2 separate regions of the Homo sapiens genome follow, and region 1 is linked to region 2. Evidence: fine-mapped expression QTL. Tissue or cell type: Th1 cells. Region 2 holds a variant in brackets; the other region holds the start of a gene. All regions are shown on one strand. Distances are from middle to middle.

Region 1 (8,000 bases), 51 kb after region 2:
ATGCCTATTTTTTGGTAGAAAAAGCTAAGTTACAAAATAAGATAAATTAAAAATACACGGCCAGGTGCAGTGGCTCACGCCTGTAATCTCAGCACTTTGGGAGGCAGAGGTGAATGGACAACGAGGTCAGGAGTTCGAGACCAGCCTGGCCAACATGATGAAACCCGTCTCTACTAAAAATACAAAAATTAGTTGGGCTTGGTGGTGGGTGCCTGTAATCCCAGCTACTTAAGTGGCTGAGGAAGGGGAATTGCTTGAACCTCAGGAGTGGAGGTTGCAGTGAGTCAAGACTGTGCCACTGCACTCCAGCTGGGGTGAAAGAGTGAGACTCCATCTGAAAAAACAAAACAAAACAAACAAACAAAAAACCCCCAACATTATGATATAGCTATTCATTGGGCAGCCATTAAAATTCTAGTTATGAAGATTATATCATTACATGGGAAATATGGTAGATGGTGAATGAAAATGATATAAAAGTATTAATATGATATAACATTATTAATAACCAAATATCCAGTTAGGGTTTTCAAACAAAATCTGTTCCTTTTCTTGGTTAAAGTGGCATTATCTTGATGAAAAAGAAAAAAAAATCTTCTGCTTTTTTGGCAAAGTTTCCCTTGGCTGTCTTTAGAGTGTGCCATCCATGTGGATGTCATTTCTCCTGATGATCCGGGTATGATGATGGGGGCTCTCTTCCCTACTTGGAGCTCCTAGGCTCACTCCCCCACTGACCTCACTCAGCTGAGTTGTTAATGGGTTTCATCCTGGCATAATCCCATTTCTATTTTTAAGCTCTTTAGACCCTCTTGGGTAAAACTAGTTTTAACTCCAAATGCACTTTCTTTTTGAATAAATGTGAATTAAGCAATTTCAGGGAACAAAATGTTTGACAATGAACAGGTTGAGTGTAAAGGATATGAATGTTTATTTGGGATATTAAATTCCAAATACAAATAATTGTATTATTCTCCAAATGCAAGGAGTATGAAAGTTGTGTCTTGTATCTTATCCTTCATAGCATGGGAGGTGTTGCTATTTGCTAAGTGTATTCTAAAATGAAATCTTAATTTCCCCCTTCCCACCCCACTTGCTGCAACTCAAATTAGCAAGTTGCACCATCATCCTCACTGTTGCTTAGGCCAAAAATCTACGTGTTCTTGTGGTAGTTAGCTTCTGCCGCAGTAACAGGTAGTCCAGACATCTCTGTAGCTTGCAACTGCAAATGTTTGTTTCTCACTCTGGGGTCTGAGGCTGGCTGCAGCTTCTAAGCTGCTCCTCTTGGCTGGACTCCTTTGGGCCACCCTTCTTCTCACCCAGGACCCAGGCTGGCAGAGAAGTTACACCCTGGGGCATGCTTTCCTCAGGGTGCAAGGTAGAAGTCAGGAAGGACAGCAGAAGCAAATGATGCCTTTTAAAGCCTCTGCTTGTATCTGGCACACTGTCACTTTATGTGCATCCCATTGCTTGGAACAAATCATGTGGTCAAGTCCAAAGTGAAGGTGCAAGGACATGCACTGTCCCCTCATATAAACCTTCACATTATTCTGCAAGTTACTTATGGCTGAGCAACTCCCACGTGCACATGTAAATAAACCTTGCCTTTTCTCCTGTTAATCTATCTTCAGTTAATTTGCAGGCCCCCAAGCATGGGACCCAAGTGGTAGAGGTGAAATTTTTTCTCCTAACAATAGCATATTTTGGCCTAGTGATTCATGATAACTGTAAGTTATTAACAATACAGTAGAATCATTCCAAGTTATACTTAACATTTAAAACTTTCATCAATGATTATGAATGATGACTCATCCCAGGGACACAATGCTTAACACCACCTGGCTTGAATACTGACTGATCCACTTACTAGCAGCTTAACAATACAATTTTATTTTTAAAAATTTATTCATTTATTTATTTTTTTTAGACAGGGTCTTGCTCTGTTGCGCAGGCTGGAGTGTAGTAGTGATATCTTGGCTTATTACAGCCTCTACTTCCTGGGCTCAAGCAATCCTCCCACCTCAGCCCCTTGAGTAGCCGGGACCACAGGCATACGCCACCACACACGTCTGATTTTTGTACTTTTTGTAGAGACAAGGGTTTCACTGTGTTGCACAGGCTGGTTTCAGACCCCTGAACTCAAGTAATCCACCTGCCTTGGCCTCCCAAAGTGCTGGGATTACAGGCATGAACCACCACACCGGCTCACAATTTTATTGTTTTACAGTCCTGAGGTTGGAAGCCCGGCACTGTCCCCCTGGGTTAAAGTGGAGGTGTCGATAGGGCGGGTCCCTTCTGTAGCTCCAGGGGAATATCTGGTCCTTGCCTTTCCCAGCTTCTAGAGGCTCCTGCTTTCCTCGGCTAGTGGCTTGTGGACCCTTCTGTCTTCAGAGCTGGCAGTGTGCGTTTCTCTGTGCCTTTCTCCATAGTCATATCTTCCTCTGACCCTGACCCTCTTTTCACTTTTGAGGAGTTTTGTGATTACACTGAGGACATGAAGACCATCCAGGACAAGTGCCCTCTTTCAAGGCCTGCTGATTCCATCTGCAACCTCAGTGTCGCCTTGCCACGTTACCTAACATAGGCACAGGTCTGGAGATCAGGACTTGGATGTTTTTAGTTTTTTTTTGGAAGTACTGTTCTGCCTTCCACACTCTCTGCAGCTTTTCTGGTGGATGCTGCATCAGAGGTAAGGAGATGCCGCCTGCACCACCCTCCACTGCCCACCCACACACCAAGCTGTAAGGTTGGGTTAAGTTTCTGATGCAACTAGGCAATGTGACCCCACGAAAGGGGCAGAGGGGCACCTGTCACACATGGGCACAGGCTGTGGGGCCAGCTGGCTGGGCTCACATCCTGGCTGCACCTCTCATGAGCTCTGTAAGCTCCCTGGGCCTCCCTTTCCTCACCTGTGAAATTGTCACAGCATGCGCACCTGCCCTCTGTGCCATGTGGGACTTGGGGGAACATCTCTAAAGCCCTTTGCCAAAGGCCAGTCAGGTAGCAAATGCTGTGTGAGGGTTTGGGACATAAACACACACTGGCAGCATGCCTGAGCGAAGCTTCCGTGGCCTTCTGAGTGTCTGGCCAGGTCATTCTGGGAGCTGTCAAATACACCTGGCTGTCTTCCTTTTCTGGTCACATGGTTCTGGACCCTTTGTCCTTTGTTGGGGCCATTGGCTTGTTCTGGAAGCTGTGCTGAGAGCACAAGTGATGTCGAACACCCCAGGTCAGAGTGTTACCATGCCAGAAGGCCCCAAACACAGATGCTCACCCCAAACACATTTTGCTGTTGGCTTCCTGGCCTAGATTCCAGCCAGGGATCCTCCTAAGGAACCTCTCTGGTCTCCTCCCGAGCTTGCAAAGAGAGGTCTGAAGAAAGCTTGCGATTGCTGAGCATGGGGGCTGGAGCACTCAGCGCCTGTCGCTCACATCTTATTTGAATTTCAGAAAAACAGGAAAAGTAAATGCATGAGATTTTTCTATTCAATTTCAAAGCCTTTTCCCAAAAGTGACTTTTGATAACTGTCATTAAAAGGAAATAGACACAGTATAAAAAAAAGCAAAAATCTTATAATGTAAAAATTACTTGATTTCCTCTGCTTTGCCACTGGTTTAATAAAAAAAAAAAAGCTCCTTTTCTACTTAAAGCTGGCATGATCATTGAATTCATAGACTTATGTCGCTGCTGGTCTTAGTGCTTAATATATACAGTGACTCATTCTACTTAATGGCATCAACAACAGATGCAGAGAAAATGCTTCACAAGCCCAAAGATTGCAGTTGGAAAACCCCGTGCAGTGGGAACAATTCTTTACTAGCCCTAATTGAGGGCAGCTACTCTTTGTGCTTGCCTGTGACAGTTTTTTTTTTCTCTCTCTTTTCCCTCCTCTCCTTACGTGTCCACCCAGATTCTGCAACCCATAGATGGTGGTCTGTGCAGACCAGCAGCCAGAGTCTGCCTTTGGCCTCTGATGCTGTTGTCCTCAACATATTTTCTCCTTCTGCACCCCTGCCCACAACTCCTCTGTGCTCCCCCTCCTCAGGGCTACTTCCTACCTGAGGGAAGATCAACCAGAGGGGGCTGGTGATCAGGACCCAGGGCAAGGGCTCCAGGGAGAGTGAGCTCACATTTGCTGGGAACCTGGGAGCACACGGTGCTGGGGAACCTGCCATCCCCCAACTCAAGTGTGAACGCAGAGCTGGATTTCAGCATCACTCAGGCCCTTTGTAATATTTATTTTGTGCATTTCTTTTTTTTTTTTTTTTGAGATGGAGTCTCACTCTGTTGCCCAGGCTGGAGTTCAATGGCATGATCTCCGCTCACTGCAACCTCCGCCTCCCTGGTTCAAGTGATTCTCCTTGCCTCAGCCTCCTGAGTAGCTGGGATTACAGGCGTGCACCACCATGCCTGGCTTATTTTTGTATTTTTAGTAGAGACGGGGTTTCACCATATTGGCCAGGCTGGTCTCGAATTCCTGACATCAAGTGATCCACCTGCCTCGGCTTCCCATAGTGTTGGGATTACAGGCAGGAGCCACTGTGCCCAGCCTATTATGTGCATTTTAAGACAATATTTTATAAAAGGATTAGGAACTTTTTCAGGCGGTTGAAGAGAGCTCTATTAGAACAAAAAAGGTTGAGAATTCCTGGTGGAGATAAAGTGCAGGGAGAGAGAAAAGTTAGAGGACACGCTCCCTGTCCTAGGACTTTGGGGTGGCAGGGCCCTGAGGCTCTGAGAGCAGCCCAGACTTTGCCCTTATTCTCTGTGTTTCAGGGCCTCGCTACCTTTCCAAGGCAACATCGTTCTTGGAGCACCTGCTGAGGTGCTCTCTGCTGGGGGCCGTAAGTGAGCATCGAAAAAGCTGTAAAAAGTATCCCTGCTGCTCTCCAGGGACTCACAGCATGGACGGCACCTGCATTGAGAGAAGACGGCAATGGTATCGTGATGGTGAGTCTGTTGCCGCTGTATAGAGAAATGGGGAGGGAGAACTCAATTGCAACTTGGGAAGAAGATCATCTGGGAGGAGGTGGAGCCTTTCTGTCTTGAAGGTTGGGTCTACCTCCAGGTGTGAAGGAAGGACATTTCATATACAGGGGAAAGAGGTTTAAAGTATGGAGCTGGTGTGTGTGTGTGTGTGTGTGTGTATGTATGTGTATTTGCACCTGGAAGCATGAGTGTGTGTGCACGTGTGTGCTGGCATCTGGGTCTGTGGTCACAGATGTTTGCACATGTGTGCATGTACCTCTTTGTGTGTGCATGTACCTCTTTGTGTGTGCATGTGTGTGTGGCTTATTTGTGAAACAAAACCAAAAGCCAGATGAGGAAACTTTATGGGAAGCGAAGTCTGAAGACAGATGGGGCCCAGGCTGCAGACATCTGGAGGGCCAGGCTGTGAGGGCAGGGCTTTGGCTGTGTGCGGGGCAGTGGGAAGCCTAGTGGGGTAGGAAGGGCCACTTTGAGATGGTGCAGTGGTGACAGGAGAACACGATGACTGAGGCCAAGAGCTCAGTTAATATTTCAAGTGGGATGTTGTGAGGCCTGAAATAAGGCTGACATGGAGTGGGTGGGGAGGAGGGATCTGCATCATGGGACCCCCTACTCTGGAAGTTGCTTGGCAGCTGCCCATCAATCATTGAATAGACATCTGTTGAGTTTCCTGCTTCCTGCCCTGCACTGTGCTAAGTAACAGAGGTACAGAGCATCTCAGTCACCTCCATGGTACTCAGACCCCCTCCCAATGCGGTCACACATTGCTAACAACAGTGCTGCCAAAGGAACAGCTGAGCACTATGTGTGCGGGTGGTGCTAACTCTTGCATGTGGGCTGTGCCAGGTGTGTGCCCAGCGCTTCCTCAGGAGGCATTAAGGAGCAAGCTTCCAGATACCCGCTTCTCAGCCCAGCTCTGGCTGTTGAGCTGCTTCCCCCTGTGGGATGCTGCAGCTTCCTAACTGCTGCAGTTTTCAAAGTGTGCAAATCTGATCTAGAGAAGTAAGGCCACTAGCTCCAGATGGGCCCACAGCTGTTGGGTTCAAAGGGCTTCAACGAGCCACGATTATTATCTGTGGTCTTGATAATAAGATCATTATCTTATTCTGTGTTCCTGTAATAACGACGTGTTTGTAAATGTTGACCCTGCAAGGTGACAGGTAGATAAAAATGCCTATGGTTCTGATAAATAGTCATTGGATATTTATGTCATCCAAGGGTGGTGGCTTTGGAGTGTGGAAGGTAATAATAAGACAATAATCTCGTGATAATAGTCTGAGATGAATTATATCTTTAATTATGCTTAAAATAACTTTTAAAGAATAAGTAAGTGAATAAATAAGCAATGTGACAAATAAACAACTGGTGTCAACAACTCTAGAAGTTTGGGGAAAATAAGTTTCTAAAATTCCTTGACCCTCCTTCCATCAAGAGATGGGGTCTCTGTCCCCCTTTGAATCTGGGCTCCATATTTCTTGGCCAATACCTCTTTCCCCTGTATATGAAATGTCCTTCCTTCACACCTGGAGGTAGACCCAACCTTCAAGACAGAAAGGCTTCACCTCCTCCCAGATGATATCCTTAGAGAATGGAACTTCGTGTCTGATGACTGAAGTGAGCTTAGGCCTCCCTGGCCAGCTACCAGGGCCTTCCTATGTGCTGGCACTGGGAGGTCTGTGTCCTGAGCTCGCCTGGCCCTCAGGCTGGGCACACACCGCACACCAGTGAGCAGCAGCCATGTGGTGCTGGCAGCTTGGTGGGCACAGCAGGCATGGCCACGAATCTAATGCCTGACAATGACAGGTGTTGGAGCATGTGTCTTAAGCAAGCTGGACAAGGTGTGCATCAGCCAGCAGAAGGGAGACAAGGATGAGCCTGCTGCCCATCTACACTCAGCTCCTGTCTTTGTCTTCCTCAGCCAGTGGTGAGGTGATCTATAGTGGTTCTGGGACAGTGTATTATGGCAGAATCAGGTCCTGGGAGGTGAGCGTGGCTTCCTGCCATGAGCTACCACAGCTCAGATGCCTAAATATTTAGTGCACATTCTGTTCATCTTCCTATAGACTGGGCATTCAGAGCACAAAATGCTGTTGCAATTCTTCCTCCCATAGGAGGGCATCTTGAATGTGCCAGGGCTGGTTTCCAGCCTCTCCCATCCTGCTAATGGGTGCACGCTTTCCATGAATTGCTGTGTGATGTTCACACGGAGGTACGGTGTCAAGGGGGTTTGTCCAATCTGTAAAGGGAGTGGGTAGGTTGAATGCAGCATTCTCCAAAGGGTAACCTCATGAATTCCAGGGCCTGGATGGAAATGGCAGCTACCAGGTGGAAAGGCCGTGTGGACTGACTGGTTTGGAAAACCCTGAGCTTAATGCAGGACTGAACTCTAGTGTCTCAGATGCTACAGAAATTCAAGACAAGATCAAGTTCTTAGCTTCTCTTTGGCTTCTCTGTGGTTCTCCTAGTTGCTGTTGGGGGCTCCTGCTCCTTTCTTTCCACCCCATGCAGGTATGGGCGCTGCTTCTCTTCTGCTGAGGGATTCTCCTACACTAGGAAAGGTTCCTCCATCTGCCCCTTCATCAAAAATATTCTTCCTTCTATCTCATTGCCTTAGAGTCTGCCTCTATCAACCAATTACTCCTGAGACTATGAGCTGTCACTCACCATTGTGAAGAGGGGGCTTCAGTATCTCCATGCCTGTTCCTTTCTTTCTCAAGTCCTCCCATGTATGCTACTGAAAATCTGCATCCTGAAGATTCACTTTTTTCTTAGAAGTCTGGTCTCTAGAGTAGGAGCTGGCCACTTTTCCTGGAAGGGGCCAGAGAGTAAATATTTGCCAGCCATGCGGTCCTGTTGCAGCTACTCAGCTCTGCTATTGAAATGTGAAAGCAGCCACAGAAGATGGGTCAGTGAGTGGAAGTGGCCACATTTGGCCCATGGGGAATGGTTTGCCCACCCCTGACCTAGATAGAATGTATCACGGGTCCCCTTGGAGCACTTGTCATTTGCCAAA
Region 2 (8,000 bases):
AATCACTTCATACCAGGTTCTTCCCTTAACATATGGGGGTTAAAATTTGACATGAGATTTGGGTAGGGCCATAGCCAAACCACATCAGGAGGTTATTTTGGATTATGCAGGTGGGCACAATGTAACACAACATGCCAAGGACCCTTAGAAAGCAAGGGGAAGGCAGGAGAGGCAAAGTCAGAGAGAGAGAGAGAGATGTGAGGACAGAAGGAGAGGCTAGAGTGATGGGATTTCTAGCTTTGTGGATGGAGGAGGGGCCGGGAGCCAAGGAATGCAGCAGCTCCCAGAAGCTGGGAAAGGCAGGAAGCCAATTCTCCCCGCAGCCCCCAGAAGGAGTGCAGCTTTGCAAACAGCTTGATTTTAGTCCCATGACACTCACTTCAGAGTTCTCACCTTCAGAATTTATGGACTGAGTGTGTGTTGTTTAAGCCACTGCATTTGCAGTAATTTGCTACAGCAGCAAGAGGAAGCTGGAGAACACAGTTATCCAGGTGTTGTGACACCGAAAAACACCCCCTCACCTTTCCTAATGATGCCTGGGTGAGTGGCCATCCCCGTGAAGAGCCGTTCCGCTCAGTGTTGCAAAGGTAAAGGGTGAGGAAGGATCTGGGCAGCAGGGACAGAATGCCTTTGTTTGGCCATGCTGCTGTTAGAGTACCATAGGGATTTGATGGCCAGGGGACACCTCAGAAGCCTCAATAGGTACAGTATTGGGTTTTCAGGTAAACTAACACTAGAAGAGTTATTTATGCAATCAGCCAATCATTCAGTAACCATGTACCGAGTACCTTCACTGTGCTAATCAATGAAGAACAAAAAGAGAAATGACAGTCCCTATCCTAGAGACACCTCCAAGGGAGACATCCAAACAGATACTGATATGACAACATGACACTTTATATAAGGGTGACTACCAACATTGAGTGCTTGATGGGGGCCAGACACAGCACTCAGTACTTCACTCGCATCACCCCCAAGAACCTGAGAAAACAAATGGCACCCGAGTGGTAGATGTGGGAGCCGTGATGCAAAGCCAGGTGCATTCGTGCAAAGCTAAGATGCTGTAACAGAGACCTCAAATGTCATCACAGTAGCTAACAAATGGGGATGCCATATTCTAAGTGTTTTACATTTATTACTTCATTTGATTCTCACAACAAACCCAGGTGATACGTGGACTCAGTGTCCCCAGTGCAGTGAGGAGAATTCTGGGGCACACGGAAATGAAGTCATTTGCCCAAGGCCATACAGTTATTAAGTGGTAGGGCTAGGATTTGAACTCAAAAGGTGAGCCCCAAGTCCCTGATATACCCATTATGTCATACTATTGATACTATCTTCCTAACTGTCCTAAAACATTGCCTTGTTTTTCTCTCACTCAACTGTTCTGAGATAAGTAATCCATTTAGGTGGAGAATCTCTGCTCCACTGGGCATTCTAAGATCCATGTTCCTTCCAAACCATTGCTCCTCCATCCTCAGGGGCTCTACTGGCTGATACAGTTGCCGCTGGTGACATGTGACTATTTTAATTTTAATTAATTTAAATACATTTAAAGACAATTGAAATTTCAGTTCCTAGTTGCACTAGCCATAGCTCAAGTGTCTAGTGGCTCGCGTGTTGGACAGCACAGATCTCAAAACACTTCTATTATCTCAGAGTGTTCCACTGCTCTGGGGTACTGTCACCTGCCTGGTGGGACCAATCACCAGCACATCAGGGACAGCCTGAAGAAGATGCACCTGATGCCTCATGTTCCCACCCCGAGCAGATACCCATCATTCCTGCTCCCATCCCTTAGTGCAAAGGCCACAGCTCACTTCAGGGAAGCCTGGGTGTGTTAGTCTGTTCTCACACTGCTATAAGGACATACCTGAGACTGGGCAATTTATAAGGGAAAGAGGTTTAATTGACTCGCAGTTCCACAGGTCTGGGGAGGCCTTGGGAAACTTATAATCATGGCAGAAGGGGACACAAATACATCCTTCTTCACAAGACAGCAGGAGAGAGAAGAATGAGAATCGAGTGATGGGGGAAGCCCCTTATAAAACCATCAGATCTCATGAGAACTTACCATCATGAGAATAGCATGGGGAAAACTGCCCCCATGATTCAATTACCTCCCACCGAGTCCCTCTCATGACACGTGGGGATTATGGGAACTACAATCCAAGATGAGAATGGTGGGAAGACACAGCCAAACCATACCAACGGGAAACACAGACAGTGGGTAGCAATGGGTCTGGCTTCAATTCCATTTCTATGGCAGAAGGGCAGAGCAGGTTTCATTGGGATGCAGGCAGTAACCACTAAACGCATTCTGTCTAAAGGTGGAGACGGTTCTCAGCCTCTAGCAGATTCTCTACCTCTGAGGAGGGAACAGGGCCCAGATGTGTCAGAGCTGACCAGGAAGCTATTAATTCTGCCTGAGGCAGTAAGCAAAAGCTTCACCAACATGCTGACATTTATTTCAGATTTCCCCAAGTAAAGCAGAAGGTATGGAAGAAGACTTTAAAGCAGAGAAAAGAAACCAGCAAAGGCAAAGAGGCGGGATTGGTGAGGGTCCCATGAGGCTGTAGGGCACTGGTCAGTGGGAAGGTGGTATCAGATCAGGTGGTAAGGATTTAGAACTTGTTCTGAGGACCAGCGATTCTCAAAGGAGAAATGAGGGCTGCAGAGCAGCTTCCTGGAGGTCGACTCTTTTCACACTACTTGTCTCACCCCTCCGAGAATCCTTTCCCTCTGCCAGGGGCACATGCACCCACTCCTCTCCTCCTGCCTCACCCAGAGAATTGGGGTAATAGAGTGAGTACATGGTCATGGGGATGGGGCTATGCAGAGAGAGGATTTTAACATCCCTGGTGTAGACAGCGGGGTGATGTCAGGAGGTTTTAGGTTGAGGAATGACATCATCAAATACATTTTTGGAAGAAGGAGCCAGTATACAGCACAAAAAGGAAAGCTTGGCTTTGCACATTTTGGGTAGAAACTGATAGAAGGAAGCCACGTTTACCAAATGCCTTCTACATTCCAGGTGCCATGCGAGATGCTCCACACATCAATAGGCACATTTCTTCTATTTCCAGGAGGAGAAATCTGATGTAAGTGAATCCAGCAGGGATCTGTTCACTGGGTGCAGCGAAGTCAAAGACTGATGTTGGGATAGTAGCAAGAGAAAGTGAGGCGTTTATGTAGGGCCCCAAGCAAGGAAAATCAGGCATCCCATGTTCAAGACCCAACTCCCAGATGGCTCATAGGTGAGGGTTTTTACCAACGTGGAGGCAGAGGTTACAAGTAAAGTCATAAATTCAAATATGGAGACTATACGTTGGTTTGACCTAAAAACGTAGGACAACTGGAAGTTGGGGGCCCACAGGTTATAGGTGGATTTAAAGATTTCTGATCTGTGATTGGCTAAGGAGGCAAAGCTTTGTCTAAAAATGTGGGATCAGCAGAAAACAATGTTATTAGGTTGGTGCAAAATTGCACGTTTTGCCACTGAAAGTAACAGCAAAAAAAAAAAAAAAAAAAACCTGCAATTACTTTTGCACCAAACTGATAGCTCTAACTTGTGGGTGTGACGTTCCCAGGCCCCTTAGGAAGAAATTTAGAACAAAGAACAGTGACCAGAGTTTAGTTTTTAGTTTCCCTTAATTTGAGGTCTATGTGTTAGCAAATCTGTTTGGTGGGGGTTCAGGTTTTTGAAAAATAACTCAGGGACATATGTTAAGGTGTTATTTTCAGTTTTTATAGGGAATAACATATCTCTTGACTAACTTTTTTGGCTACTGTTTTAAGCTACTATTATCTTTTTGTTTATTCAGTTATTTTTCAGTGTGAGCTAGGTGCCTGGAATTTTTCCTGAAGGAACTTAAGAGTTTTCTTTATTTCTTCACTGGGCAGGGGGTGACCTGCAGGCCCCTAGGAGGAGTCCCTGCTCCATCTCACTGAAGACCAAGACAATTCTAGAAATGGGCCAAAGTCATATACCAAAGAAGTACTGGGGCTGCGTCCCTTCCTGGCCATACCTGAGCTCCACTTTAGACAGCCAGGGGGACATAAGAAATGCCATTTGGGGTCACTGAGGGCTCAGTGTGGTCATGAGCTCCTTGGTGGGAAAGTACAATGGCTCTAGTTTCTTTTTTTTTTTTTTTTTTTTTTTGAGACGGAGTCTCGCTCTGTCGCCCAGGCTGGAGTGCAGTGGCGGGATCTCGGCTCACTGCAAGCTCCGCCTCCCGGGTTCACGCCATTCTCCTGCCTCAGCCTCCCAAGTAGCTGGGACTACAGGCGCCCGCCACTACGCCCGGCTAATTTTTTGTATTTTTTTAGTAGAGACGGGGTTTCACCGTTTTTTAGCCGGGATGGTCTCGATCTCCTGACCTCGTGATCCGCCCGCCTCGGCCTCCCAAAGTGCTGGGATTACAGGCGTGAGCCACCGCGCCCGGCCCTCTAGTTTCCAACATTGTCATTTATGAATTAAGTAGAATGAATGCTGCATTTATTTATATTGTAAACAAAAATTTATATTGTAAAAACAACCCCCCCCCCAAAAAAACCCACCAAACACTCAACTTTTTAGCTTAATAAATTCAGCGAACTCTATTTCTTATTGCAGAAGCAAAAATTCTCTCATTTGTTTGCTGTGGTAAGAATATGATGCCTGAAGGATCAGATACTCAACTCTACACCCTTTCTTGGCAAAATATTTACCCAAGTTTCAATTTCTTCATGAGAAAATGGGGAGCAATCATACCCAGCCTAGGGAGGATTGTTTTTGATAATTATATTTAATATATGTAAAATACCTAGTACAATCCTTGACTTTGGATAGGTTGTCAATAAATGGCATCATCATCATCATCATCATCATCATCATCATCATCAT[T/CATCATT]ACTGTTGCTTATCCTAATGTGGCACCCACAAGAATGCATCTTTCAGATATCTGATGGTAAGGGCAGAATTAACCAAGGGCCCTAATGCTCTCCTTTGAAATCTATTGCACTTTTTGCCTCCATGGGCTGCTCAGCCAATGACTGAGTGAGTGATGCAGGAAGGCTAAGGTTTGTCCATTCCTGGGGACTCTGCTGGTGAGCGATTTTGGTTTGGGGGCTTCTCAGTGGTCTTACCAAACTCTCCTTAGGACTGTACCACAGTCTAAGATGCTTCTAGACTCCCTTTGTTTCCTCCCTCCCTCCCTCCTTCCTTCCCTCCCTCTCTCCCTCCCTTCTTTTGGGATCAGACCTGCATTTTGTTCTGATGGTTCTTCCAGCCATGCTGGTTCCCTTTTTCTGTCACATGTATTTCTTCTAAGAAAGTTCTTGTTTAATCCCATCCTGGGATCTGCTCCTCAGAGGACGTGGACTAACGAAACTACAGCCACCTTCTAGAAAGTGAAGGAGGTGAGCCCAGTTCTCTTGTCTTGCGTATTAATAGCCAGGTATTTGTTCAAAGTTGTGCAGATGTTGGTCCTGTCTCCTCTGAGCTTCCATCCTCCATAATGAAGAATTTTCATATATTCTTACTTAGTTTTCTGAAAAAGCGCTTTCTTTTTGCTTTTTTCAGATGCTTTCTGCTGTACAGTCTCCTGGTTATCTGTCTTTCTTGATCAGAACCGGAGCAGGTGTTCCAGGCCTGCGTGCACCACGATTTTCTGCAAGGTAAGACTTTGTTTTCTGGGTCATCCACAATGAGAAGAGCATATGTGAGAAGAGAAATTGAGCATAGCTCATTTCTCTTTGGAGTGTTTAAGACAAACTTAGACTTCAACTGAAAGTCATTAATTTTTACAAAACGCTATGAGATAACAGGGCTTACACCGTGTGCCGAAAGACCCAGGAGGGTGAAGTTGCTATGCAGCCTAGAAAAGTTTGTATTTCTATGCTTGTGTGTATAATCTGCTAAGGAGTTAGATGTCTTACCTTATCCCTATTTCTGTAATGCTGTCCTGCCCTCTCTTTTGAGCTTGTGACAATTTGTAAAAAAAAAAAAACAACAAAACAACAACAACAACAACAAAAAAACAAAGCTGATAGTGAAAGCCAACTGCATACTTCCATTTGCTGATTGGATCACATGCCAGTCTGTATTAGTGTAATCTCATCTTTTTGCTTTTAAAAATTTGATCACATACATCACACAGAATTCCAGGTAGAGCTGCACATTGCTGCAAATATTGCATAGAAAGGAAAACAGAAGAGAAGAGAAATCTTACGGCTTCTCAATGCTTGTTAGTGTAAAAAAAGATACAATTTCTATTTTTTTATTGCACAAGTCAGGCACTCTCATTGGTATGTGAATCTAATAGAATGAACGGGAAACCTAATTTATTTGAACATTCATGTGTCAATGTAGCTCTTGAGGGAAAATAATGTCAGCATTTTCTATCAGATGAAATTATTCTGTCTCCTAATTCTGTATTTAGGGATACTTTTTTGGCTTTCTTTTGACCACATATGGTTCAAATTATAGTAGCTTCCTTTAGGGTTATGAAGAATAAATGAGACAGTCTATAATCTATAAAATATGTTCCAAAATGGCAGATATTGTCATCAGTATGATCATGACCATCACCATCATCACCGTCATCATCATCACCATCATCATCAAACAACAGAGTTGCAAATCTTCCCTTCTGCTAGAACTACTAATGTGCTGAAAATCTTCAAAGTGAGAAGCAGAAACCAGCTGTTCCTTCCTCTGGGTAGGAGAGCTGCATTTTTTTTTTTTAAACTTAAGCTGAATCTGGCTCTTAGAATAAATTAGAATGAATGGCAAAACATGTTCCAAATGATACCACTAAGGGCTTTGGATGCTGATGGAGCGATAATAGTGTGAATGAAAAAAAAAAAAAGGTAAAGAAGAAGGGAAAAAACAGCCTCCAGATTTCAAGGTCACCAAGTATCAGAAGTAAGGAAATTTCCTAGGGGCAGCTCATGTCGACTTCGGAGGGAAAACAAGGCGACAAAACGTATAGTCAGCAATGCTCTGTAGGCTTTCTGCACACGGCTTCCTACCAGGCCGACCTTCTGACTTACTGGAATTTTCCAACCTAATTTCATTTACATTTGGGGACTGGAGTGTTGAAATGTTAAAACGTTTCTTATAAACAAGCCAACAGTATTATGTTGCTAAATAAAGGGAAAGCAGCCATTACTTAGCTGTTTGAGTAAAAGGAAGAATTTCAATGTAGGTTTTTTGTTTGTTTATCTTTTTGTTTATTTATTTTTTTTTTTGAGACGGAGTCTCGCTCTGTCTCCAGGCTGGAGTGCAGTGGCGCGATCTCGGCTCACTGCAACCTCCGCCTCTTGGGTTCAAGCGATTCTCCTGCTTCAGCCTCTTAAGTAGCTGGAATTACAGGCACCTGCCACCACACCCAGCTAATTTTTGCATTTTTAGTAGAGACGGGGGTTTCACCATGTTGGCCAGGATGGTCTTGATCTCTTGACCTCGTGATCTGCCTACCTCGGACTCCCAAAATGCTGGGATTACAGGCGTGAGCCACCGTGCCCGGTCTCAATGTAGGTTTAAGTGGGCTTGGGATGCTTTTTGTTTCAGCAGGGAACAATCTTCACTGGAGTAGTCATTGTGGACAACTGGGAGATGAGTGCTTTAGAAACTGTAGCTGATGGTTAATCACAGGGACTAACACCATCATTATGCTCGTTATGGCCTGGTCCTGAATTAAACATCCCGCGATCACAATACAGACAACGAGTGCTGCTGGTCTTGAGCAGAGAAGGAGGGGTGTTACAGTTGAGTTATATCCCCTCAAAAAAGATATGTTGGAGTCCTGACCTCCAGCGCCTCCAAACGCAACCTGATTTGGAGATGGCATCTTCACAGAGGTAATTCAGTGAAAAACTCCAGTCATCAGGGTGGGCTCTAATCCAACCCGACTGGCGTCCTCATGAAAAGGGGAAATTTTGGCCACAGAGACACACACAGGGACAACACCGCGTGAAGCTGGAGGTGGAGAGGAGGGATGCTTCTGCCAGCCAAGGAACAGC

What was found. PIP is the estimated chance that this variant, and not a neighbour inherited with it, causes the effect.
Region 1: LINC02145 starts here. The variant in region 2 is fine-mapped to the expression of LINC02145 in Th1 cells (Schmiedel 2018, PIP 0.95).

What each region holds. Positions count from the first base shown.
Region 1 is chr5:6,334,098-6,342,097 of GRCh38, reverse strand. LINC02145 (long intergenic non-protein coding RNA 2145) reads left to right here and starts at 4,806. Exons shown (of 2, transcript NR_028351.1): 1 at 4,806-4,948.
Region 2 is chr5:6,385,045-6,393,044 of GRCh38, reverse strand. No RefSeq gene overlaps it. Among named protein-coding and RNA genes, the nearest start is that of MED10, 10 kb to the right of the region's middle. The variant T/CATCATT (reference allele first, on the strand shown) is at 4,886.